Linked DNA regions of Homo sapiens. The protein of the gene in region 2 purifies or fractionates together with the protein of the main gene of each other region. This does not show direct contact. Each region holds a gene or a part of one and is shown on either strand. Other genes may lie near its edges.

Evidence for each region.
Region 1: the proteins of IPO7 (region 2) and HP1BP3 purify together in Homo sapiens (affinity purification with mass spectrometry; 3 studies listed by BioGRID and IntAct, with this or other methods). This does not show direct contact.
Region 3: the proteins of IPO7 (region 2) and GRWD1 purify together in Homo sapiens (affinity purification with mass spectrometry; 2 studies listed by BioGRID and IntAct, with this or other methods). This does not show direct contact.
Region 4: the proteins of IPO7 (region 2) and NUSAP1 purify together in Homo sapiens (affinity purification with mass spectrometry; 2 studies listed by BioGRID and IntAct, with this or other methods). This does not show direct contact.

The regions. Positions count from the first base shown.
Region 1 is NC_000001.11:20,784,308-20,791,991, reverse strand, and holds the start of HP1BP3 (heterochromatin protein 1-binding protein 3), read left to right. Parts: upstream 1-4,684; 5' UTR 4,685-4,797; intron 4,798-5,319; exon of another isoform or gene 5,320-5,806; intron 5,807-7,684. UniProt on the Homo sapiens protein: Component of heterochromatin that maintains heterochromatin integrity during G1/S progression and regulates the duration of G1 phase to critically influence cell proliferative capacity.
Region 2 is NC_000011.10:9,443,629-9,448,656, forward strand, and holds the end of IPO7 (importin-7), read left to right. Parts: intron 1-1,468; coding exon 1,469-1,566; 3' UTR 1,567-4,499; downstream 4,500-5,028. UniProt on the Homo sapiens protein: Functions in nuclear protein import, either by acting as autonomous nuclear transport receptor or as an adapter-like protein in association with the importin-beta subunit KPNB1.
Region 3 is NC_000019.10:48,448,932-48,455,983, reverse strand, and holds part of GRWD1 (glutamate-rich WD repeat-containing protein 1), read right to left. Parts: intron 5,672-7,052; coding exon 5,458-5,671; intron 5,319-5,457; coding exon 5,176-5,318; intron 4,951-5,175; coding exon 4,753-4,950; intron 3,277-4,752; coding exon 2,959-3,276; 3' UTR 1-2,958. UniProt on the Homo sapiens protein: Histone binding-protein that regulates chromatin dynamics and minichromosome maintenance (MCM) loading at replication origins, possibly by promoting chromatin openness.
Region 4 is NC_000015.10:41,377,843-41,381,560, reverse strand, and holds the end of NUSAP1 (nucleolar and spindle-associated protein 1), read right to left. Parts: intron 1,469-3,718; coding exon 1,375-1,468; 3' UTR 515-1,374; downstream 1-514. UniProt on the Homo sapiens protein: Microtubule-associated protein with the capacity to bundle and stabilize microtubules. May associate with chromosomes and promote the organization of mitotic spindle microtubules around them.

The DNA.
Region 1 (7,684 bases), on a different chromosome or scaffold from region 2:
ATTTATTTGACTGTTAACAGCGCTTTTAGAATTCGTTTTCTGATTTTTACCAGAAAACCCCCATGGGGGGAAAAATTCTTCAAACCTGTCCTTGTTAACACAAGGTGGTATGTAAGTAAAATAGGTAGATATATCTTTCGATGCTCAGCCCAGTGACTGTGATGTCATAGCTCTGGTCTGGAATATTCTTAGAATCTGAATCTGCAGTTGCTTTGTGCGCAGTGGCTCATGCCTGCAATCCCAGCATTTTAGGAGGCCAGGCGGGTGGATCATCTGAGGTTAGGAGTTGGAGACCAGCCTGGCCAACATGGTGAAACCCCATCTCTACTAAAAATACAAAAATTAGGCAGGCATGGTGGTGGGCACCCAGCTACTCGGGAGGCTGAGGCAGGAGAATCGCTTGAACCCGGGAGGCGGAGGTTGCAGTGAGCCCAAATCATGCCACTGCATTCCAGTCTGGGCGACAGAGCGAGATTCTTGTCTCAAAAATAAATAAATAAATAAAATTTGAGGAACAGGAAAAAAACAAAAAGCAACCAATCTATTACCTTCACAACAGGCTGTAAAGTCTGCAAAGCTAGCTTTATGCTAAAGTTTCAACAGGGACTTGGCCTCTGAAAAAGTGGGTGTTGAAAATTAGAGATGATACAGTTAGATTGTGAGGACTTCTTAACGCTTGCACTCCTAGTTCACAAACCACTAGGTTTCCTCATCTTTCTGGGACTCCCTAGGCAAGGACTCCCTGAGAATGGATAGCCTTGGGCAGAACTGTGAAGTCATCACAGACAGCCCCTCATTTACTCCTTTCTCTCCCCAGAAGTTCCTACCCTAGTCAGACCTCCGGGGTTCTTATCTTCCGATCCATCCGGAAAGAGGTTTAAAGTAGGAAATCTCAATTATCACTTTAAAAGTGCTATAGAAGAATGGCTGGGAGAGGTGGTGTGCCTATAGTCACAGCTGCTTTGGAGACTGAAGCAGGAGAACTGCTTGAGCCCAGGAGTTTGAGTCCATCCTGGGCAGTACAGCAAGACCCCATCTCTAAAAAAAAAATTCTAGGTGCTGTAGAAGAGAGTGAAGATTAAACCAAAGGAATGAATCTCTGAGTGGCAGAACTTCAGGGACTTTGATGAGTGTGGGAGGTCTCTGAGTGAGAGGGTCTTCCCAGTGCCTGGAAGCTCAGTCTTTGATGGCAGCCTTCTCTAATACACCCCATAAGAGCTGAGCTGCTCTTCTAAACTTGTCAAGGTGGGTCTTTCCACCAATGCAGTTTGTTTACCTTTAGGTAAATGGTACAAAAATCATCATGTAATTGTTGGCTGGGTGTGATGGCTCACGCCTGTAATGCCAGCACTTTGGGAGGCTGAGGCGGGCAGATCACCTGAGGTCAGGAGTTCAAGACCAGCCTGGCCAACATGGTGAAACCCCGTCTCTACTAAAAATACAAAAATTAGCCAGGCATGGTGATGCACATCGGTAATCCCAGCTACTTGGAAGGCTGCGGCATAAGAATCACTTGAACCCAGGAGGTGGAGGTTGCAGTGAGCCGAGATCCCGCCAGTGCACTCCAGCCTGGGTGACAGAGAGAGACTCCATCTCAAAACAAAACAAAACCTATTACATAACACACTTCAATGATCTGTGACTAGTATAGCTTAAATAAAGCCAAGTGAAATAAACTATAAAACTATACCCCTATGGAATCTTTTGATTCAGAGGCAGGTACATACAAAAATCAAAACTGGCCAGATATTAAATATTACATTGAGCAAAGGTAAAGTGCTTTAACTAATAGACATGTACAATAAAAATTTCAGATTCCTGAGTAGAAAACTTTCAACTTCAGTCTTCAGTAAGTGGTAGCCTTAATGCCTGCCCGTGTGTGTGTGTGTGCACTCTCTTGTGGAAAAAAATGTGTTTCAGGATTTTTCCTCCTTTGGTGTTCATGTGGTGAACAACAAAGTAAGATTGATTTTTTGTTGTTGTTTTTTGTTTGTTTGTTTTTGAGACAGAGTCTTGCTCTGTCACCCAGGCTGGAGTGCAACGGCACGATCTCTGCTCACTGCAGTCTCCGCCTCCCAGGCTCAAGGGATTCTCCCCCCTCAGCCTCCTGAGTAGCTGGGATTACAGGCACCCACCACCATGCCCAGCTAAATTTTGTATTTTTGTAGAGACGGTGTTTCATCATGTTGGCCAGGATGGCCTTGAACTCCTGACCTCACGTGATTCCCCTGCCTGTGCCTCCCAAAATGCTGGGATTACAGGTGTGAGCCACTACGCCCAGCCTTGATTTTTTTTTTTTTTTTTTTTTTTTTTTAGACAGGGACTTGCTCTGTCGGACAGGCTAGAGTGCAGTGGTGCAATCTTGGCTCGCTGCAGCCTCCGCCTCCTGGGTTCAAGGGGTTCTCCTGCCCTCAGCCTCTCGAATAGCTGGGATTGCAGGCACGTGCCACACGCCCGGCTAATTTTTGTATTTTTAGTAGGGACAGGGTTTCACCATGTTGGCCAGGCTGGTCTCGAACTCCTGACCTAGGCCTCCCAAAGTGCTGGGATTACAGGCATGAGCCACGACACCCGGCCTGATTGATTTTTGAAACACCTTGTTGCCCACGCTGGAGTGCAGTGTCATCATCACGGCTCACTACAGCCTCGACCACCTGTGCTTAAGTGACCCTCCCATCTCAGCCTCCCATGTAGGTGACCACAGGCGTGTGTCACCACGCCCAGCTAATTTTTTTTTTTTTTTTTGATATGGAGCCTGTCACCCAGGCTGGAGTGCAGTGGCGCGATCTCAGCTCACTGCAACCTCCCTCTCCTGGGTTCAAGTGATTCTCCTTCCTCAGCCTCCCGCGAGTAGCTGGGACTACAGGCTCGTGCAACCATGCTCAGCTAATTTTTTGTATTTTTAGTAGAGACGGGGTTTCACCGTGTTAGTCAGGACGGTCTTGATCTCCTGACCTCGTGATCCGCCCACCTCGGCCTCCCAAAATGCTGGGATTACAAGCTTGAGCCACCGCGCCCGGCCTAATATTTTTATCATATATAGAAAGGGGGTTTCTCCATGTTGCTCCAGGGTGGTCTTAAACCTCCTGGGCTAAAGAGATCCTCCTTTTGGGAACCTAGGCTTCCCAGAGTGCTGGGATTACAGGCATGAGCTACCGTACCCCACCAAGATTGTTTTGAGACAGGGTCTTGCTCTCTCTGGGTGGAGCGCAGTGGTGATCATAGCTCACTGTTGCCTCAAATCCTCGGCTTCAGCGATCCTCCTGCCTCAGCCTCCCGAGTAGCTGGGACTAAAGGCCTTTGCCACCATTCCTGGCTTATTTATTTATTTAGAGATGGGGTCTAATTATGTTGCCCTGGCTGGCCTCGAACTCCTGGCCCCAAGCCTCATGCAATCCTCCCACCTCGGCCTCCCAAAGTGCAGGGACTACAGGCGTAAACCACCATGCTCGGCCTAAGTTTTGTTGTTGTTGTTTTAAGCAAAAATCTGTGGAGGAGGAAACATCTCCCAGTTTGCTCTCATCTGAGTCTGCTTCTTACATGAGATGGGTCTAAAGACATTTTAGGGTAAAAGAAGAACGGTAGGATGTTTTAAATGTACGAATACATAAAAATGGAAGTCTTTGAAAAGGAAGACAACAGAAACGTTAACAACGAAGGGAGTGAGCAGAATGAAGAATGGCATAAAAGAGCAAAACCCCTTCTGAACAGCTGGAATATGACACCAGAGTACTAAAGACTGGTAATGCCATCAGGATATGAATGATAACGCACACCTCGTAAAGAATTTTTTATGCTGGCTGTGAAATTTGAACTGATAGAGTGGGGTGGCTGTGGCAGGGAAAGCTGGTGAGACAATTATGCTAATGGCAGGGCCAGACGACTGGGTGAGTGCTTAAATGGTGTCGTAAGTCTTTATAAACCTTGGCACATACGTTTGAGTACTGGTCATCTACTGTAAGCTTGGGACAATTCTACTGGTATTTCCTTACATTTATTACCCAGTCCCTCCCCTGTCCCCCAACACCTGAAACTTTAAAAACAATCTTTCCAAACTAGCTTTGAAGAGCTGTACTTTTCCTTCGTATGTACGTTGTTTAAGTACGCTGATAGCAACGCAATATGACAATTCAAAGGGAATCCCGTCTTCTAATCTCAGGGTTTTCATTCTGGGGAACTCTCCCTGCATGTGAGGATTAGGGAGCCCGGAAAGCCCGTTTCAACTTTTCAGTTCTGAGTCCCGAGTCACTACTCTGCCCTGTACCGTCTGGAGACTTAATGGGAGCGAGTGCGAGGCAGTGAATTCTCCGCTCTCTAGTTTTCCAATTCTACGGTCTTCAAAAAAAGGTTTGCTCTTGAGCTGCGCCTAAACTGAGAAGCGGGAAAGGCTAGCCCCGCTAAAGGCGGACGAGTGGCAGAAGCGGAAACCCAGTTAAGAGAAGGGACTGCCCTGGAGAGCACAGAAAGCGAAGGTTAGCGGGGGAAAGCGGCGCCCCTCCGAGGAAACCGACACCGCCCCGCCACGCCAAGGCAATGGGCGCCACCACGCAGCGCCGGGAACGCGCGCCGACGCCCCGCGCTCCGCCGGCGTCCGCCCGTCCCCGCGCGCCCCCTCGCACCCCACGCGCGGGAGGCGGGGCCGGCGGGGGCGCGCGCGGGGCCGCGGGTAGGGGGGCGGGGCGGCAGAGCTCGGCGGCTGGGACTGGAGGACAGCGGTGGCGGAGGCGACTAGCGGCGGCGGGAGCGGCGCCGAGAGGCCGTGCGGGACGCGGGCGCCAGGACCGGCCGAACGCAGAGGTAACGCAGGACCGAACAGGCGGCCGGGGAGTGGGCGCGGGCTCGCTGGGCCCCGAAGGCGAGTGGCGGAGGCCGCTCGCCCGGGGCGCCGACGCCGCTCCCAGAGAGGAGGGGGCGGGGCGCCCGGGTCCCCGGAGGTGGCGCCTTTTGTCTGCCTTACCCGGCCGCTCCGCCCCGCTCCCTTCCTCTCTCCTGCGACCTAGCCCCCTGCCCTTTTGGTGGACTCCTCCTCAGGGGCCCTCCGGCGCGCGCGCTCCCGCCCTTGTTTTGTTTGGATTTGGGGGAGGAGGGGGAGCTCTTCTCTGGCCGTGCGACCCTGCGTCCCAGCGCGCCTGCGTCGGCGTCCTCTGCCCGCCCCGATTGGCTGAGGGCTGCGCATGCTCCGAGGCCCGCCGCGGTCCGGCGTCCGCCCGCGCCCTCCCCTCACCCCACTCCCTCAGCGGTTTTCGGAGCCGGTTCGAAAGATGCCGGCGGCGGTGACTGGCTGCGGCGGGCCCGCCCCCCGGGTTCTCCGCCCCCGCCGCCGCCATTACGGAGCTCCCAGTGGTGAGTGTGCGGAGCGCCGAGGCTCGCGTTCCGCCGCTGCTTCCGTCGCCGGGGCGGGCGCCGCGGTGTCCCTGCCGAGCGTGAGCCCCGAACTGTCACCGCGCCGAGCCCCAGCCTCATCCGTCGGTGTCCGCGGTCCGAGCTTTCCCCGCCTCGCTGGCGGCCCGCGCTCTCCCCCGCCGTGCGCGTTCGCCGCTGTGGCCTGTAGCTACCTCGCCTCGCTGCTTTGTCTCCGCTGCTCTTGCCGTCCTTCCCGCGGCCTTCTGCGGGCGGGGCTGTCGGCTGTCGCTTTGCTGCTCCGCGACGGCGGCCTTGAGTCTCGCTCCCCCGGTGGGAAACGTAGAACTGGTTACTCGCCACCTTAGGCGGTGGGGTTTGAATGAGAGCGGTGCCTCGGTAGGTCGTCAGAAAGTTACAGTCGCCCATCTGAGCGTTTGTAAGAGATGGAGGCAGGAGTGGTGAGGTGAGAGCCCCAGATCTGAGGGTTGGTACTGCATTAACAGCTGTGACCGGGGACAGCCACTTAACCTTTTTGAGAAAGAGTTGTCTCCCGTACGGAGACCGGACCGGGTGAACTGTGCTGCCGCATCCGCGTGCACGTTCTCTCTGTTGTTTATTGTGCTTCCTGACTTTGCATTGCATTAAAAAGTGAGAATCCAATTCGAAATAACGTCTAAAAATCGCCTGGGGCTTTTTGAGCACGCTGTCTTGTCTTAGAGTGAAATTAGAGGTGACTAGTGTCATTTTTGAAAGGTGCTCTAATTTTGTTTAACCTGACATAGGCAAAAAACTTGTTAGCTTTTTGATTTTTCATTGCTCTTCTCAAAAGTTTAGTGTAATTTGTTTCAAAATAGAAGTAACATTTTAAAGTTTGCTGGGTTGGTTGGTTTTGGCTTTGTTTTTAAGCTTGCTTGGAAGATTGTAGGGCTGGAAGTTAGTGGAGAACGTATACTGAACTCTTCATTTCCGGATGAAAGTTTTAACTCCTTACCCAGTTAGATTGTGATTTTATTGAGATGAGACACTGTAGTGTCCTTAGTATCTATGCCCAAAACAGACACTGAGTATATGTTTGCTTATATAACTTACATTTGAAAATGAAAAACAAGTGGTGTCAGCAGTCAAATTACAGGCATGCTTTTTGTGACATGACTCGTTAAATCTGAGTGTAGTGAATGACTTAAGATTGGGAACAATGTGAGGTGTTCAGCGCATCACTAATGACATGTATTACATATATTTTATGGTAAAATGTGAAATTATAGTGCTTTCCCTAAAATGCATATTATCAAGGATATCAGTAAACTGAAATACGTTGTTAAACTCCTCACTTTTCTACAGCCTTCTCTTAATGTAGAGGAAATAAATTAAAACTGAAATTTGGGGCTTTTTATTTCTACAATACTTTTTTTTATTGCTTGCATTCAAATAATTTAAAGCCGTGCATGGTGGCTCACACCTGTAATCCTAACACTTTGGGAGGCCAAAGAGGAGGATCGCTTGAATCCAGGAGTTAGAGACCAGCTTGGGCAACCCTGTCTCTACAGAAAATACAAAAACTATCCGGCTGTGGTGGCGCATACCTGAAGTCCCAGCTACTCAGGTGGCTGAGGTGGGAGGAGATCGCTTGAGCCCAGGAGGTCGAGGCTACAGTGATCCCTGGTCATGCCACTGTACTCCAGACTGAGACTCTGTCTCAAAATAAACAACCGATTTAATTTAAGCATTTCCCTTGACAAAAAGCAAATATTTGTTATTGTTGTAACATTAAGTTTAAGCAAGCTGATGTTCATAAGAGGACCATGTAAACCACAAGTAAACTCAGACTGTTTATTTTTGGCACATATAAAAACCAAGATGAAAAACATGAATAGGCCGGGCACGGTGGCTCACGCCTGTAATCCCAGCCCTTTGGGAGGCTGAGGTGGGCGGATCACGAGGTCAGGAGATCGAGACCATCCTGGCTAACACGGTGAAACCCCGTCTCTACTGAAAATACAAAAAATTAGCTGGGTGTCGTGGCGGACGCCTGTAGTCCCAGCTACTCAGGAGGCTGAGGCAGGAGAATGGCGTGAACCGGGAGGGGAGGTTGCAGTGAGCCGAGATCGCGCCACCGCACTCCAGCCTGGGCGACAGAGCAAGACTCGGTCTCAAAAAAAAAAAAAAAAAAAAGGGAAAACACAAATAAGTTTTATTTGTTCATCCTTTAGTTTAACAAATATTAATTGAGCATCTATTCTGTGCCTGGTATGTTCTTAGGCATCAGGTATGCAGCAAATGAACCAGGTAGATAAGATCCCTGCCAGGAACAAGTGTGGCAGCCTCAAAATTTGATCATTCA
Region 2 (5,028 bases):
GTGGTGGCTCATGCCTGTAATCCCAGCACTTTGGGAGGCCAAGACAGGAGGGTTGCTTGAGTTTGGAAGTTGAAGTCCAGCCTGGGCAACATAGTGAGACATCATCTCTACAAAAAATAAAATTAGCCAGGCATGGTGGTGCATGCCTGTAGTCCCAGCTACTTGGGAGGCTGAGGCTGGAGGATCACTTGAATGTGGGAGGTGTAGGTTATAGTGAGCCATTATTGTGCCACTGTACTCTAGCCTGGGTGCCAGAGTGAGACCCCGTCTCCAAAAATGTAAAAACTTACGAAGTTAAATAGCTCCCAGACATATCTTTTCATCTTTAAATGTTTCAGTGTGCAATTTTTAAAAGTACATTTTAAGCCAGGCGCGGTGGCTCACGCCTATAATCCCAGCACTTTGGGAGGCTGAGGCTGGCGGATTACTTGAGGTCAGGAGTTTGAGAGCAGCCTGGCCAACATACAGTGAAACCCTGTCTTTACTAAAAAACACAAAAATTAGCTGGACATGGTGGTGCACACCTGTAGTCCCAGCTACTTGGGAAGCAGAGGCAGGAGAATCGCTCGAACCTGGGAGGCAGAGGTTGCAGTGAGCCAACATTGCGCCACTGCACTCCAGCCTGGGTGACAGAGTGAAACTCTGTCTCTAAAAAAAAAAATAAACAAAAGTACATTTTAGGTTATACACCATTGTTAATGCAAACAATTATCTATAGACTTTTTTTTATAAATTAAAAAAATTATTTTATTTATTTGTTTGAGTGACACTGTCACCCAGGCTGGAGTGCAGTGGTGCAATCTCGGCTCACTGCCACCTCCATCTCCCGATTTCAAGTGATTCTCGTGCCTCAGCTTCCGAGTAGCTGAGATTGCAGGCACGCACCACCACACCCAACTAATTTTTGTATTTTTAGTAGAGACGAGGTTTCACTATGTTGGCCAGGCTGGTCTCAAAAACTCCTGACTCCTGAGGCGGATGGATCACTTGAGGTCGGGAGTTCTAGACCAACCTGGCCAACATGGTGAAACCCTGCCTCTACTAAAAATACAAAAAATTACCCGGGCGTGGTGGCACGCACTTGTAGTCCCAGCTACTTGGGAGGCTAAGGCAGGAGAGAATCGCTTGCACCTGGGAGGCAGAGATTGCAGTGAGCCAAGATCGTGCCGCTGCACTCCAGCCTGGGTGACAGAGCCAGACTCTGTCTCAAAAAAAAAAAAAAAAAAAGATTTTTTTCTTAACAGTGGGAAGTGAAAATTGGCTAAGAAGTCTACAGCATACAGTAAAAGAGATTATATTCTCTACATAATGCATGCTCCCTTGCCCTTATACATTGGAGAAATCATGGATTTTGGAACTTCCTGGCCACTAATGATGGTTAAGCTACTGGCTTGTTTAATGTTTTGTCAGTTTCTCACCAAGTTAGTAGATGATTGAATGCCCTACTAAAATTTTATTTGTTTTCTAGAATCCAAAATGATTGAGAAGCATGGAGGATACAAATTCAGTGCTCCAGTTGTGCCAAGTTCTTTCAATTTTGGAGGCCCAGCACCAGGGATGAATTGAGTTATCTCTTTCTTTCCTGCTGTGTGCTTGTAGTGAAGAGCTTGTGTTCCTCCTAGTAGTGGTTCCAGAACTGGTTCATGTTATCTATTCTAAACTAATAATCAATAGATGGACAAAAGAAACAACAACCCCAGGAGATGGGACCTGATCATGCAACCTGGCACTGGAAAAGAAATCAGCGGGATTTTGGGGGTGGGGGGGGATGGGAGGTACCTTAGAGGGAGTATTTTCTTTATTTTTTGAAGAAAGTAAGATCCTGACTCTGAAGCTTCAAAGTGACACTGTGGAAATCTGAAACGAGGGGATGTCATGAAGGCAGCTTTTCTTTTTCTGAGGAAAAAATAGGCATGGGCTACAGGACTATTTAAAATGTCTCATTTACAGTATAAAACTCAAAGGTAGATGTAATTTTTACACCTATGAGTATTTGTCCAATTTCTGTCTCTTCCTCACCATTGGGTATCTATTCTTTATATGTAAATAAGATAAGGTCATCTGATAGCCTTATTCAGTCTTCATCATTTTCATCATTGTTCCTATGTAGATTATTGGACATTTATTGTAGCACTACATAACTGATTATAAAAATCTGTAAATGAATTAGCACTTTCATATTGAAACAAGCCTGCTAGCCTATGTATAAAATAGCAAAATGTTTGCTGTTTATAAAAAGATGTAATGGGGTGGGGGGCAGGGGTAATTTCAAGTTATTAATTTAAAAATGAACTAGCAATTTTGTACCTGGTGACTTTGTGGTGCACTCACCTCTGATAGTGACTTGAATTCGGTATGTAAAAAGGGGTTAGTGGTATTTCATTGCTGCTAAAAATGACAACTCCCTCTGTGTCCTGTTTTTCTTAAAGCTGTCAGTGTACAAGTGGGTATTTGAATACCAGACCTTACTGTAAAAAATAAAAAAGGTGGTATCTAGAGCATGTAAATTGGATATAAAGTTCTGCTCTTAAAGAGTTGATCTAAGAGTATGGCTAAACATCTATATATGCAATCTATTAAAAGAACTTAATTCGGCTATTATGTCTTGATTTGATTGCAGTTTTTTCCTAATTATAACAAATTTTTCCTCATTGGCCTGTTTTTAATCCTGTGCCTAGAAGGAGTACAAAATGCACACTTTACAAAATTGATATTTAACACTTACCCACTCCCCTTTCCCCATCTCTTCTACCGCTCTTGTTGATCGTGGTATCTGATCTTGACTAGATAGGCTGAAGGCACATGGTTCCCTCCAAAAACCACTATTGATACCACTACAAAAACAAGCCAGCAAAAAGATACTGTAGAGAGGTTGGCTTGCTTCCCTCTCTTCCTAACTGCATGTTGAAAAATAAGCCGTTATTGATCTTAAACATCGGTCAGATGAGTCATACATTGGGTTATTTTTTATATACATGTATACACAAAATATTTCAAATTGAAAGCAACATCTTAATGGATTCAAAACTATTACAAGCTGTTGTCTAAAACAGGTGAGAAAAAAATTTATAACTGTAAAAACAAATGCACATATTGATATTTAAAATGCGTAATTAAGAAAACCCATTGTTGTTGTGTTTTTCTTGTATACCAATAATTAAGCCACTACTGTTGGCACTGTTTGGTTTTCTATTTTAACACTGAAGGAGTGAAAGTATTTCCTATATTTATGAATTTACTACTAAAATCTTGGCAAAAAAAGAAAAAAATTGTCTAACGTGTGTGGGTGAAAACTGTTAATCAAGTGTTTCTACTCCCCCCCGAAAATCCCCTGAAAGTTGGACACCAACTGTATACCCTAGGTTGCTTAAAGGGATTTCACTATTATATAAAGTCAATAAAAATGAAGTAGTTGTATATATGCAACATTGTGTACAGAGGGGAAATAATGAATAGTATTAAAGAAACATTCTCGTCTTCCTTTACCTTTAATCCCCTAATACCTAGTCTACTTTTTAAATTTTCAGACTTCACTGCTTTTTGAATTCATAATTCTAATTTTCACATTATTGTTAATGGAAAATCATATCTAATAAAGGTTTTAGTTATTCCCATGCACAGTATGAAAATTCTCATTTGCTGAGGTTTTGTTTCAAGAAAATGTATTGGCATGTCTTTGAGAACATGTTTTATTGTCTCCTGTGTCATATAATCCAAACTAATCTCCGTTTACAGACTTTAACTTGAAATTAGACCTTATAATTAAACTATTTAAATAGTGTTCAAATGATAGTTTCTAATGCATCAAATATATACCTCAGTTTTCATGATTTCCTTTAACATTATAATTTGGTATAGATCAAGAATCTTAACATGTATCAGTTTCTAGATGAGGCTGCAGGATTTTTGGAAAACTTTTTGAATGTATTTACAATATTCTCTTGTAATTAGCTACATAGGGACTTGTCTTTTTTTCTTTTTACATACAGCTTTTCCTACAGTTTTATTACCCTGTAATTTTTTTTTAGTTGTAGAAGTTAATTCTGATTTTGTGTGGATTTCAGTATTTGTCTTTGTTAATGGCACATATTAGCATAAATCACTTTTGTAAATGTAAGCTTTCTTTTTTTTTCTTGAAAAAGCCTTTCTATTTATCAGTATTAAATAAAGGAAGTTAATCTGTTTCTCTGCAGGTAATAAAATAGTGACACACTGTATTAAGATAGTGACTGCTATACTCAACTCTGGAAGAGACTAGAGTATAGAGCATGAGTGGCAAAACCACAGCCCTTGGGCCATATGCTGCTATTCAGTCCCAGATGTAGCCCCTGAAGCAAGCATAAAGAAAAATGAATTAAAAATTAAATTAATATGGAAAGTTAAAAAATGGATTACATTAGTATGACTAAACCATGTCTTTGGCAAAGATCTAACACAATGTCTTAAGTATAATAGGTAGTCTCTGTTTGTAAAATAAATGACTTAAATTTAAAACATCAGTTATAAAACTGTCAGTTCTGTTCTTTGTAATTTAAATTTTGGTAAAGATTTTCTGTGACCATTTATCAGTGCCTACTGAATTCTAGCTTTTATCCTTGGTGAGTTGGCCATTCTTGCAATAGCCACTTCACACTTTGGCTCATGGTAAACAAAGGTTACCTGGAAAGTGCTCTTGGAGATAGTACTGGCATCTCTCAATTGGGGGAGTTACCTAAATCAGACCTGCAAATTAGAGAAGGCTAGGATAATAGATTCTTTAACATAAACAGTTAACATTTTAAGTTGACCTGGCAATCCAAAAACTAGCATTAGCAGAAGCAGTATGCTTCTCCAAAGGTCTTCTAGACCCAGGCTGTAACTCAGCTAACTGAAGTGATCCAATACTGTTCTAGGCCCTTCATCCTTTGTATGTAGTATTACCACTGAATAGATTTGTATGTAGTATTATGACTGCATAAAACAAACAATGGGGACAGATATATCCCTTTCCTTTAAGGACCAATACAGTAGGCTGTACTCATTGTTGCC
Region 3 (7,052 bases), on a different chromosome or scaffold from region 2:
GAGTGACAAACCACAGTCTTCTCAAGAGCACTCTGGTTTCAAACACACCTGGTATGTACGAGGCCTCGTGATGAGCTCCCGACATGCCCACAGCCCCCACTGGACTCTCAGACCCCACTGCTCACCTTGGCCGCTCAGGATGCCGGGAGGTGAAGATCATCACCCCCTTTCACAGTTGGGGAACAGGCTCAGGGAACGCCATGAGCTGGCCAGGCCCCCGCAGTGCCAGGGGGAATGCTGGTTGGGTCCTAAGCCTTTCTTTCCTTCCCAGAGTTCTGCCCTCGAAATCCTCCAGTCCCACCTCAGCCCCGTGAGGCAGACCCGTTGTCTACTTCCCAAAGCCAACGGGAACCTTCACCAGGGGGCCATCTGCGGCCAACATGGCCCAGCTCCCAGGCTGGCTGCGACTCAGGCTCAGGGCACCCCCCTCCCCTAGCAAAAGCAGGGCGGGAGGGAAAGGGATCCTCCACCTGACCTGCGAGAGCAGCTTAATGTTTCCATATAAAGGAGATACAGGGCTTAAGGTGCTTCAACTTCGTGTCAAAGTCACTGTCTAATCTGAGGCCAAGAAGCCCCGCCCCCAGGCCCCACCCTCACCCTCCCAAATCAACACTCTCACTCTTCCGAAACCAGGGGTGTTCCCCACCACTCCCCACCTACTGGTGGGGGCTGGACAGCAGGTTGGAAAGCAGAGACTACAGAAAGACAAAGAGATGCAGAGATAGGCAGGAGGAGGGGTGTTGAGAGGGTGCCCCAAGAAAAAGTACAGGGACCAAGCAGGACAGGGACCCTGAGAGAGAGGGGGACAGAGACCCAGAGAGGGCAGCAGGAAAGGGACATTGATCCAGAGAGAAAGGGACAGAGACCTTGAGAGAGGACAGAGACCCAGAGAGAGGGGAACAGAGACCTTGAGAGGATAGAGACTCAGAGACAGAGGGGGACAGAGACCCAGAGAGAGGGGGGGACAGAGACCTAGATGGAGGGGGACAGAGAAGATAGAGGCGGACAGGGCAATTGGGAAAACGAAAAGGAGAAAAGAAATGTTTTAAGAAATGGCGACATGGGGAGATGAAATTGTGAAGACAGAGAGAGGCAGAGAGAGATGGGAGAGACAGAGATGGGGGAGAGAGACAGAGACAGAGACAGACAGACTGAGAGGGTTTCTCTGAAAGGATGGAAGCCAGTGAGAAAATGCATAAAATGGGGATGGGGTGAGAGTTGGAGGCACTGAACCTGGGGGTGGATTCTCCTGGCGCTGAGCCTGTCACTGATGGGAAGACAAGGCCTTCTTGAAGGGGACAAGCTGAGGACAGGGATGCTGGGGCAGGGGTGGATGGGGGCGACGCAGCAGAGCAGGAGGGGATGGCTCAGCGGTGCCTTGCATGGAGGCACGTACCTGTTGGGGCGGCCCACCCCCATGCCCTCCGCTGGGGGCTCCTCGGCTAGGGCTGAGGGGAAGCCTCTGTGGGTGCTGAGGGGCTGTAGTCTGTCCTTGGTCCCAGGGGCCGTGTGACGGGCACCCGACCTCGGAGTCCACAGATGGATCAGAGGCTGGATGGAGGGGGGCCGGGGGTGGGGCTAGCTCAGAGCCGCAGAGGGGGAGCCAGGGAGGCCAGCCAGGCAGAGCGGCTGGGCCACAGCCCAGGCAGGCTGGACAGGAGACAGCGGCGGAGGAGCGAGACAGCGACTAGGGGGCAGGGAGACTGGCAGTGGGGGACGGGAGACTCTGAAAGAGGGGGACACAGAGAAGAAAGAAAGAAACGTGATAAAGGGGAGATGGACGGAGGGAGAAATGGGGGGTCCAGAGTTCCCTGAGATGAAGCCTTCATAAGCTGGTGGGGGTCAGGGATGAGGCCCCTTTCACTAAGCCAGAGTGAGTTCCAGATGGAAGGACACTTAGAGAAGGCAGAACGCGGCGGCACCCAGTGGGCGGAAGGTTGGGTTGCACTGGACTCCCAGTGGCCTCCCCCAGCCTAGCGGCCTGGGGGCAGCTGGTGCCAAATTCCTCCCCACCCCCAAACTCCCCCCACACCCCGTTTCCTCATAGGGCTGTGGCCAAAGGACCAGAGTCTCAAATACACCTCAGGCCTCTTCCTGGTCCTTTATTGCTGCTCAGGAGCCCTGACCTTCCTCCCGACACAGCACCAGCCTCTAAAGTCAGGGAGGAGGGGAGAGGGTCGCATGTAGCCCCCACACGGAGAAATCCTGGCCAAACCCAGCTGGCAGGAAGACAACGGGCAGAAGCAAATTGTGTTGGAGGAACCCACACCTCCAATTTGGTGCAGCCACTGTATATCCCCCGAGTCCCCTGCTGGGAACCAGCAGCCAAAACTGGGTCCTGAGCCGGACGCGGTGGCTCACGCCTGTAATCCCAACCCAGCACTCTGGGAGGCCGGGGCGGACAGATCACTTGAGATCAAGAATTTGAGACCAGCCTGGCCAACATGGTGAAACCCCGTCTCTACTAAAAATACAAAAATTAACGGGGTGTGGTGGCACATGCCTGTAATCCCAGCTACCTGGGAGACTGAGCTGAGAGAATCACTTTAACCCAGGAGGCGGAGGTTGCAGTGAGCCAAGATCGTGCTACTGCACTCCAGCCTGGGCGACAGACCAAGACTCCGTCTCAAACAAACAAACAAAAAACTGGGTTCTGGGGACACAGGTCAAATGGGTCACAGCTGACAGGAAGGAATCCGACACACAGGCCACACCAGGCCACACAAGTCTCTGGGTGGGAGTGGTCTTACAGAGCCCTGGTTAAACCGAGTTCTTTGGTGAGAGGGGTCACTGGATCAGAGCCAGGCCTTCTAGAGAACAATACGTCAAACAGAATCCATCACGGCAGCCCACAGGCCGGCCAGTCTCAGTCAACAGACCTGAATGAACCCCTTCCAGGGGAGCCCAATTCGACTTCAGTTTCCAAGCAGGAAGCAAGATCAGAGCCAGTGGGACGCCTCAGACGCTGATGGTGCGGAAGATGGTGAAGCCTGACAGCGCCGTGCTGACCAGGAGCCCTGGGCACTGCGGGTGCCAGTGCAGCTCCTTCAGCTCGGTCTCGCCCTGGTGCACGAACAGCAGCTGCTGCGGGAGGTCGGCCAGTCCGGGGTCGGCCTCCACGTCGCCCGCCTCAGGGTCCCGCTCCACTGCCAGGTCCCACTGTGTGATCTGGTGGTCTGCACCCGAGGCTGCAAAGACCCCGCTGTCCTGGGGGTGCCACTCGACGGAGGTCACGGGGGCCACGTGCTGCTTGAAGGTGGCCACTGGGGAACCAGACTAGAGGGAGAGGATGGGAGGAACGGGCTCTGAATGCCTCAGCCTGACTCTGGGGAGGACCCAGGCAGAAGCCCCAACCCTTCTCCAGCCTCAGGGTTCAGCCAGGGCCCCACCCCTTAAGCCCTCACAAGCCCAGAGTCCAGGAAAGGGACACAGGGTAATTCTGGCTGCTAAGAAGGCTGACCAGCCCAGGGGTTGCTGGGAACTGTGATTCACCTGCAAAGAAGCCCCTCCCAGCTCAGGTAGCAAAACCCCCGCCCCTGCTCTTCCCTCTGCCTGCCTGTTTTCTTCCTTGTAAAAGGAGGGCATGGGCTGGGTGCGGTGGCTCACGACTGTAATCTCAGCACCTTGGGAGGCCAAGGCGGGTGGATCACCCGAGGTCAGGAGTTGGAGACCAGCCTGAACAACATGGTGAAACCCCATCTCTACTAAAAATACAAAATTAGCCGGGCTGGTGTCACATGCCTGTAATCCCAGTTACTCAGGAGGCTGAGGCAGGAGAATCGCTTGAACCCAGGAGCGGGAGGTTGCAGTGAGCCGAGATTGCGCCACTGCACTCCAGCCTGGGAAACAAGAGCAAAACTCCATCGCAAAAAAAAAGAAAAAAAAAAAAAAAAAGAAAAAAAGGAGGGCATGGCTCTCCCAGAGCTCTCCCAGCAGATTCTACAAAGGCCTCAAAGGAGGCAGAAACACAATCCCCGGAAGCCGACCCAAAGAAAGACTAAGAATGACAGCACTTTCACTACAGCAAAGGCCCCGCTCAATTGGCGTCTCTCTCATTAGGAGAGGCTGCTCTGAAGTTCCAATGGTCAACAAGCTGGGCCCTGTGTGACCTGGTGGGCCTGGGAGGCTGGAATCCGTCTCCAGCCTCCTCCCCAGGGCTGACGCTATAGAAACGATCAAACTGGAGGAGAAAAAGGATGACATCATGGCAGCCCGGGAAGGCAGAGCCACACAAAGCTGCGGCTTTGTCCAGAGGGATGCCGGACGCTGCAACTTCTCCTGCACAGGGACCCTCCCAGCTCCACAATGTCAACCTCTAGCTTGGCTGTCATGTCACAGCGGCTCCTGTCCTTTCTGTGCCTCAGTCTTCTCCTACAACGAGCAGGCTGGGCCCCGATTCTCAGTTGCATCTAGAAATCTACAACTCTCTGAAGCTCTCAGCACTGGCCGTACAGACACCTGTACTTCTGCCCACAGGCAGATGAGAGTCCTAGTCTCTGCTGCCCCAGCCCCTTCCATCTCTTGTCAGCTGTTCCCCTGGTAGAGTGAGTGACCCCAAGAGTGGAGACCCGCCACCCTTCCTCTTGCTGAGCCTCAGTTTCCTCCTCTGTACCCTGAAGAGGCAGGAGTCTAGTTCTAAGGGCTCTCCAGCTCTGGTTGTGTAAAACTATTCAAGGAGGAAAAATCCTACAAATCCCAGGGGCTGCTGGGAGCAAGCTTCTCTAGCCCCCAGGTGTCCGGCTGGGAAAATACCTTGAACTGCCGAAGGTCCCAGATCTTGAGGGCCCCATCATCCCCGCCACTGAGCAGGAAGGGCTCCCGGCGGCTCCAGCTGATGACATTGACGTCCCCATCATGGGCGGTGGCTGTGGTGAGCATGCAGGCCTTGCTGGGGGCTGCCCGGATGTCCCAGATGCGGATGGAGGCGTCAGCTGAGCAGGAGGCAAACACCTGGGGGAGGCGGAGTCTGAGTGGTCCCAATGCCCCCCAGCCCGCAGTGAAGCCCAAGCGCCAGCGGTGGGCTACTCTCTCTTTCACTGTTCCCCTTACTATGACTTGGCCTGGAAACTAAACCTCCGTCAGGCTCCCAGCCCTCTTTTCCCTCAGACCTAGGATTCTAGGTCCCTGGCCTAGAATCCATCAGAACTAAACGACCAGAACCCCACCCTCCCTCACCGTGTTCTCAGTCGGTGACCACTGCAGGTCCTCCACAGAGCGTGTGTGGCCCACGAATGGCCGCTGGTCCACGTGCCAGGAGCCGCCGTCCGTAGGTGTCCAGAGGTGGATGTTCTTTTGACAGTCACCGGTCAGCAGGCGACCTGGGGAAGGGAGTCAGGAAATGACCTCGCCCCACCTGGCCGCAGCTCGCTCCCCTCCTTGGAGTCTAAGCGCCCGGCCCCTTGTTGCAGACCCTGCTCCCCCGACCTCCCGGGACTCCTGAACACCCCAGGGACTCACCGGTCACCCGGGGGGACCAGTCAAGGGCAAAGCCCTCGCCCATGTGTCCAGCGAAGGAGAAGATGGGCTTCATTTGGGCCTGCTCATCCCGGAGGAAGGCTGCCAGGGCCTGGGGCTCCTCCACCACCTGCAGAAGCCGCCGCAGCGCAAACACCTCCACCTGGCCCTTCTCTGACCACACCCCAGCCACAGGCTCTTCACCCAGCCATGACACCTGCAGAAGAGCGGTGGGGGAAGGGTGATGTGAAGCGAGGGGAGAGGAGGATCAAGGCACTGACCCCACGCTCCCCATATCCCAGAGAACCAGAAGTGCGCTTCCTCAGATCTCCCAGGCCTGGGACTACAGCTCCTTGAAACCTCTGTGGGAAGAAAATCACAACCTGCAAAAACCAGCATGGTAACTGGGACAGCTCTCCACAGGGGGTGGGAGTGGGTGGGGGAGCTGAGGTGGGAGGATAGAGCCCCAGGATGCCTGGGAGTTGAGGCTGCAATTCCCACCAGCCCTTGGGAGGGTGTTCAGGCTCCTGGTCTCGGTAACCCTCTAAATGCTAGAAGGCCACAAGACTCAGTCCTCGGATCTCCTTGCCTCTGTGTTTGTTCACTAGGAGACCCAGTCCAGCCACGAGGTTTCCAATACCCCTAGCCCTGACCTCTCCCCTGGGCTCCAGACTCTTACTGCATTGACCGTTCAAACTTTTTTGTTTTTGAGACAGGGTCCCGCTCTGTTGCCCAGGACGGAGTGCAGTGATGCCATAATGGCTCACTGCAGCCTCAACCTCCTGGGCTCAAGTGATCCTCTCACCTCAGCCTCCCAAGTAGTTGGGACTATGGGTAAGCACCATCACATCTGGCTTTTAAAATTTTTTTGTAGAGACAGGGTCTCACTTTATTGCCCAGGCTGGTCTGGAACTCCTGGTCTCAAGCGATCCTTCTGCATCAGCTTTCCAAAGTGCTGGGATTACAGGCATCAGCCACTGTGCCAGCCTGACCATTCAAACTTGATACAACCAAAGCCAAGCTCCTAATTGCCACCTGCAACTGCTCTCTCTCCACCTCAGGCCCCAAAATTCAGAACTCATTCTTGGTCCTCATGCCCAGCACCTATGCTGACTACAGTAAAAATGCTCACTTCCAGGGCCAGGCGCGGTGGCTCGCACCTGTAATCCCAGCACTTTGGGAGGCCGAGGAGGGCAGACTGCCTGAGGTCAGGAGCGAGACCACCCTGGCCAACATGATGAAACCCCGCCTCTACTAAAAATGCAAAAATTAGTCGGGCGTGCTGGTGGGTGGCTGTAATCCCAGCTACTTAGGAGGCTGAGGCAGGAGAATCGCTTGAACCCAGGAGTCAGAGGTTGCAGTGAGCCGAGATCGCACCATTGCGCTCCGGCCTGGGCGACAAAAGCGAGACTCTGTCTCATCTAAAAAAAAAAGCTCACTTCCAACCCCCTTCTCATGATGTCTATTGCTGTCACACTACTACTGATGTCATCCTTCCCCTGAATACCGTAAGTCTCCCCACAGGATTCTTTCCTCCGACCCTTACCTCTCTGCAATTGATATTTAAGGACAGCAGCCAGAGGGACCACTTTAAAACA
Region 4 (3,718 bases), on a different chromosome or scaffold from region 2:
TTGTACGTTGCAACCTTACTGAATTTATTAGTTCTAGGAGCTTTTTAGTGAAATCCTTAGGATTTTCTCTATGTAAGATCCTGGTGGTTTTTTCTTTTTTCAGATAGGGTCTCACTACCTAATGGCATGGCTAGATTACACGGTAGACATACTGTTAACTTTTCAAAGAAACTAGCAAACTGTTTTCCAAAGTGGTTGTGACATTTTACATTTCCATCAGATGTGTATTTGACCCTGAATTTTTAAAATTGATCTGATCTCTTCCCCTTGATAGGAAAATCTGAATGTTTCCAGTACCCGGAAGTGTGCCATGTCCTAAAGCCTCGTATATACAAAACAGCATTTAATAAAACCTGAGAGGTACTCTGGGAATATAAAGGAAGCATACTGCCGTTTCTTTTTTGAATGGAAGCAGTGGTCAGGAAAGGGCATACCAAGGGTATGTATAAACTCTTGTTAAGCCTAGCTGCTCACCTAAATCTTGGAAGACTTATGTTTACAAAGAATGAATCTATGACAATGAGAAAAAATTTTATTTATGACGATCTTGAGCAGTATAAAACTCAGAAGCTCCACTGAGGTGAAGGAAACATGGACATGATACTAAGCAAAGCCTAGTCTTTTCCATAAAATGAATAAGAAGTACATTTGGTGGAGTTTGAGACCAGCCTGGGCAACACAGTGAGACCCTGTCTCTAAAAGCATTAAAGCATTAATCCTCGCATTTCGATAGGGCTATGTAGCTTTTAAGTAAGCAATGTTAGAATGAGTTGTAGAGTTTTATTTTTGTGAATATAGTGAGTGACAGATGGCAATTACATGAGGATATTTGAACGAAGGTACATAAGCCTAAACAATTTCACCTAGGTAAAATATTGATGTCATAACCAAACTATATGGCCCCGTTTCATAAAGGTTACTATATTCTATAGAGAGTGAAGAGGTGGCCTTTCTATCCCAGCTTACCCTATTCTTGTTATTGTTCAAATTCTCCTGAAGCTTGCATAACTAGCTGCCATCAGGTAAATGCTATTGGCTAGCAGAAGACTGCAGTTCTGTTAATATTAGAACCAGCAGGGGGAACTTGGGAACTTGACATTAAAAATCTAGAAACAGAATTTTAGGATGGGTCTCGTTAGAAACCTGAATTGTTAATGGACTTAAGTAAAAACCATCCCAAAGAATTTGAGCTTTAAGGTGATAACGTCTTTTCAGAGATCATAGCACATGAAGAACCCATGGACACTACACAGACTATGAACAGTTAGCAGAAAAAGATCTCGTGACTAAAGTGGGGATGACAGCAAAAAAAAAAAATTTACAAAAGGAAAAAAGTTGAGAATACAGGAATATTTACAAGATGTTAAAAAATTATTAATCTTCAGCCAAAATGAGGCCCCTTCGCATTCCCAAAACCTTTGCTTTCTTCTCCTTTCGTTCTTGCTCGCGTTTCTTCCGTTGCTCTTCCCTGAGAGGGATAGGTCACACATTAAGCTCTAGGGAGGCTCCAAAACAGATACTTTAAAGCAACTATTGTTGGACTAACACCCAAACTTCCAAGCAATGACATCCAGCATACTTGTGTAAAACAGACTCTTAGAGGGCACTGTGCTCTGCCTAGTGTTTCTAACACCTGTTCGTCATTGTTGTGTTAAAGGGTTAGAAACTGGTATTTTCCTTTTGTTAACTCAGCACTCTAAAATCATGCATGGAGGCCGGGGCGCGATGGCTCATGCCTGAAATCCCAGCACGTTAGGAGGCCAAGGCAGGCAGATCACTTGAGGTCAGGAGTTCGAGACCAGCCTGGCCAAAATGGTGAAACCCCGTCTCTACTAAAAATACAAAAAAGGTAGCCAGGTGTGGTGGTGCATGCCTATAATCACAGCTACTGGGGAGGCTGAGGCAGGAGAATCCCTTGAACCCGGGAGGCGGAGGTTGCAGTGAGCCGAGATCACGCCACTGCACTCCAGACTGGGCGACAGAATGAGACTGTCTCAAAACAAACAAACAAAAATAAATAATAAAATCATGCATGGAATTGGAGTCAGGAGACACCTTGCTGATTGAATCCAACTCTTGTTATTTTACAGTTTGCTTTAGGCCAGATGCAGTGGCTCACACCTATAATCCCAGCATTTTGGGAGGCCAAGGTGGGAGGATCCCTTGTGCCCAGGAGTTCAAGGCCAAAGTAAGCTATGATCATGCCATTGTACTCCAGTCTGGGTGACAAAAAGTAAGACCCTGTCTCTAAGAAAAAAAAAAAAATTTGTTTTAAATGAGAAATGTCTACACCTAGAAATCAAAGTTGACCAGGTGTGGTAGCTCACGCCTGTAATCCCAGCACTTTGGGAGGCCAAGGTGGGTGGATCACCTGAGATCAGCAGTTTGAGACCAGCTTGGCCAAGATGGTAAAACCCCGTCTCTACTAAAAATACAAAAATTAGCTGCACGCGGGGGCGGGAACCTGTAATCCCAGCTACTCGGGAGGCTGAGGCAGCAGTATCACTTGAACCTGGGAGGCAGAGGTTGCAGTGAGCCAAGATCGCACCACCACACTCTAGCCTGGGCATCAGAGCGAGACTCCATCTCAAAAAAAAAAAAAAAAAAAAAAAAAAACCAAGATAAGTTAATATAATCTTGGGCTTTTTCTTTTTTTTTTTTGGTTTGTCTAATCCTCTGAAAGTAGAGCATAATGGCTAACTCAGTAGATCCTGGTTCTAGTTCTATTCCTTTCACTAAACTATGTGATTTTGAGCTTGACCTTTGACTTTGATTTCTTTTTTCTTTTTTGAGACGGAGTTTTGCTCTTGTTGCCCAGGCTGTAGTGCAATGGTGCAATTTCAGCTCGCCACAACCTCCGCCTCCCGGGTTCAAGTGATTCTGCTGCCTCAGCCTCCCGAGTAGCTGGGATTACAGGTATGTGCCACCACGCCCGGCTAATTTTGTATTTTTAGTAGAGATGGGGTTTCTCCATGTCTTCAACTCCTGACATCGTGATCCACCCGCCTTGGCCTCCCAGAGTACTGGGATTACAGGCGTGAGCCACCTTGCCTGGCCAACTTAATAACGGTGAGCAAAGGCCCTGGTGGCAGTCGTGTATAGCCATGAGTCAACTGACAGGTAACCCTGTGTCACGAGGGTCCAAGCAGGGAATCTGGGCCCAACCATGACTTGCTGCAACCCAGGATGAGCTCTGGCTTTAACTTGGTTTTCATGCTGAAGGAAGCCTCTAAGGACCGTCCTGGGTTTTTCCTCTTTATAGGGCCTTGACGCCTTGTAAGCCTGGTTTTCTTAGGAGTGAGGAATTTATGTCTATCTGGATATGTAGGTGCCCTGGGCTGCTGGGCATTGGTATCTGGAGAGATACCCACATGCCCTGTGTTTAGGCAGATGAGTCATGCAAGAGCAGTGCTCTGAATCTGGGTCTTCTTCTGAATCACCTGCAGAGCCTTGGAAACAATGCAGGTGCTTGGGCCTCACCCCAAATCTGCTGATTTGGAGTCCATTACACTGGAACCTAGGCAGATGTACTCAGAAAGTTATATACACGATACCACTTTTTTTTTTTTTTGAGACGGAGTCTCACTCTGTCGCCCAGGCTGGAGTGCAGTGGCGTGATCTCGGCTCACTGTAAGCTCTGCCTCCCAGGTTCCTGCCTCAGTCTCCCGAGTAGCTGGGACTACAGGCGCCCGCCACCACGCCCGGCTAATTTTTTGTA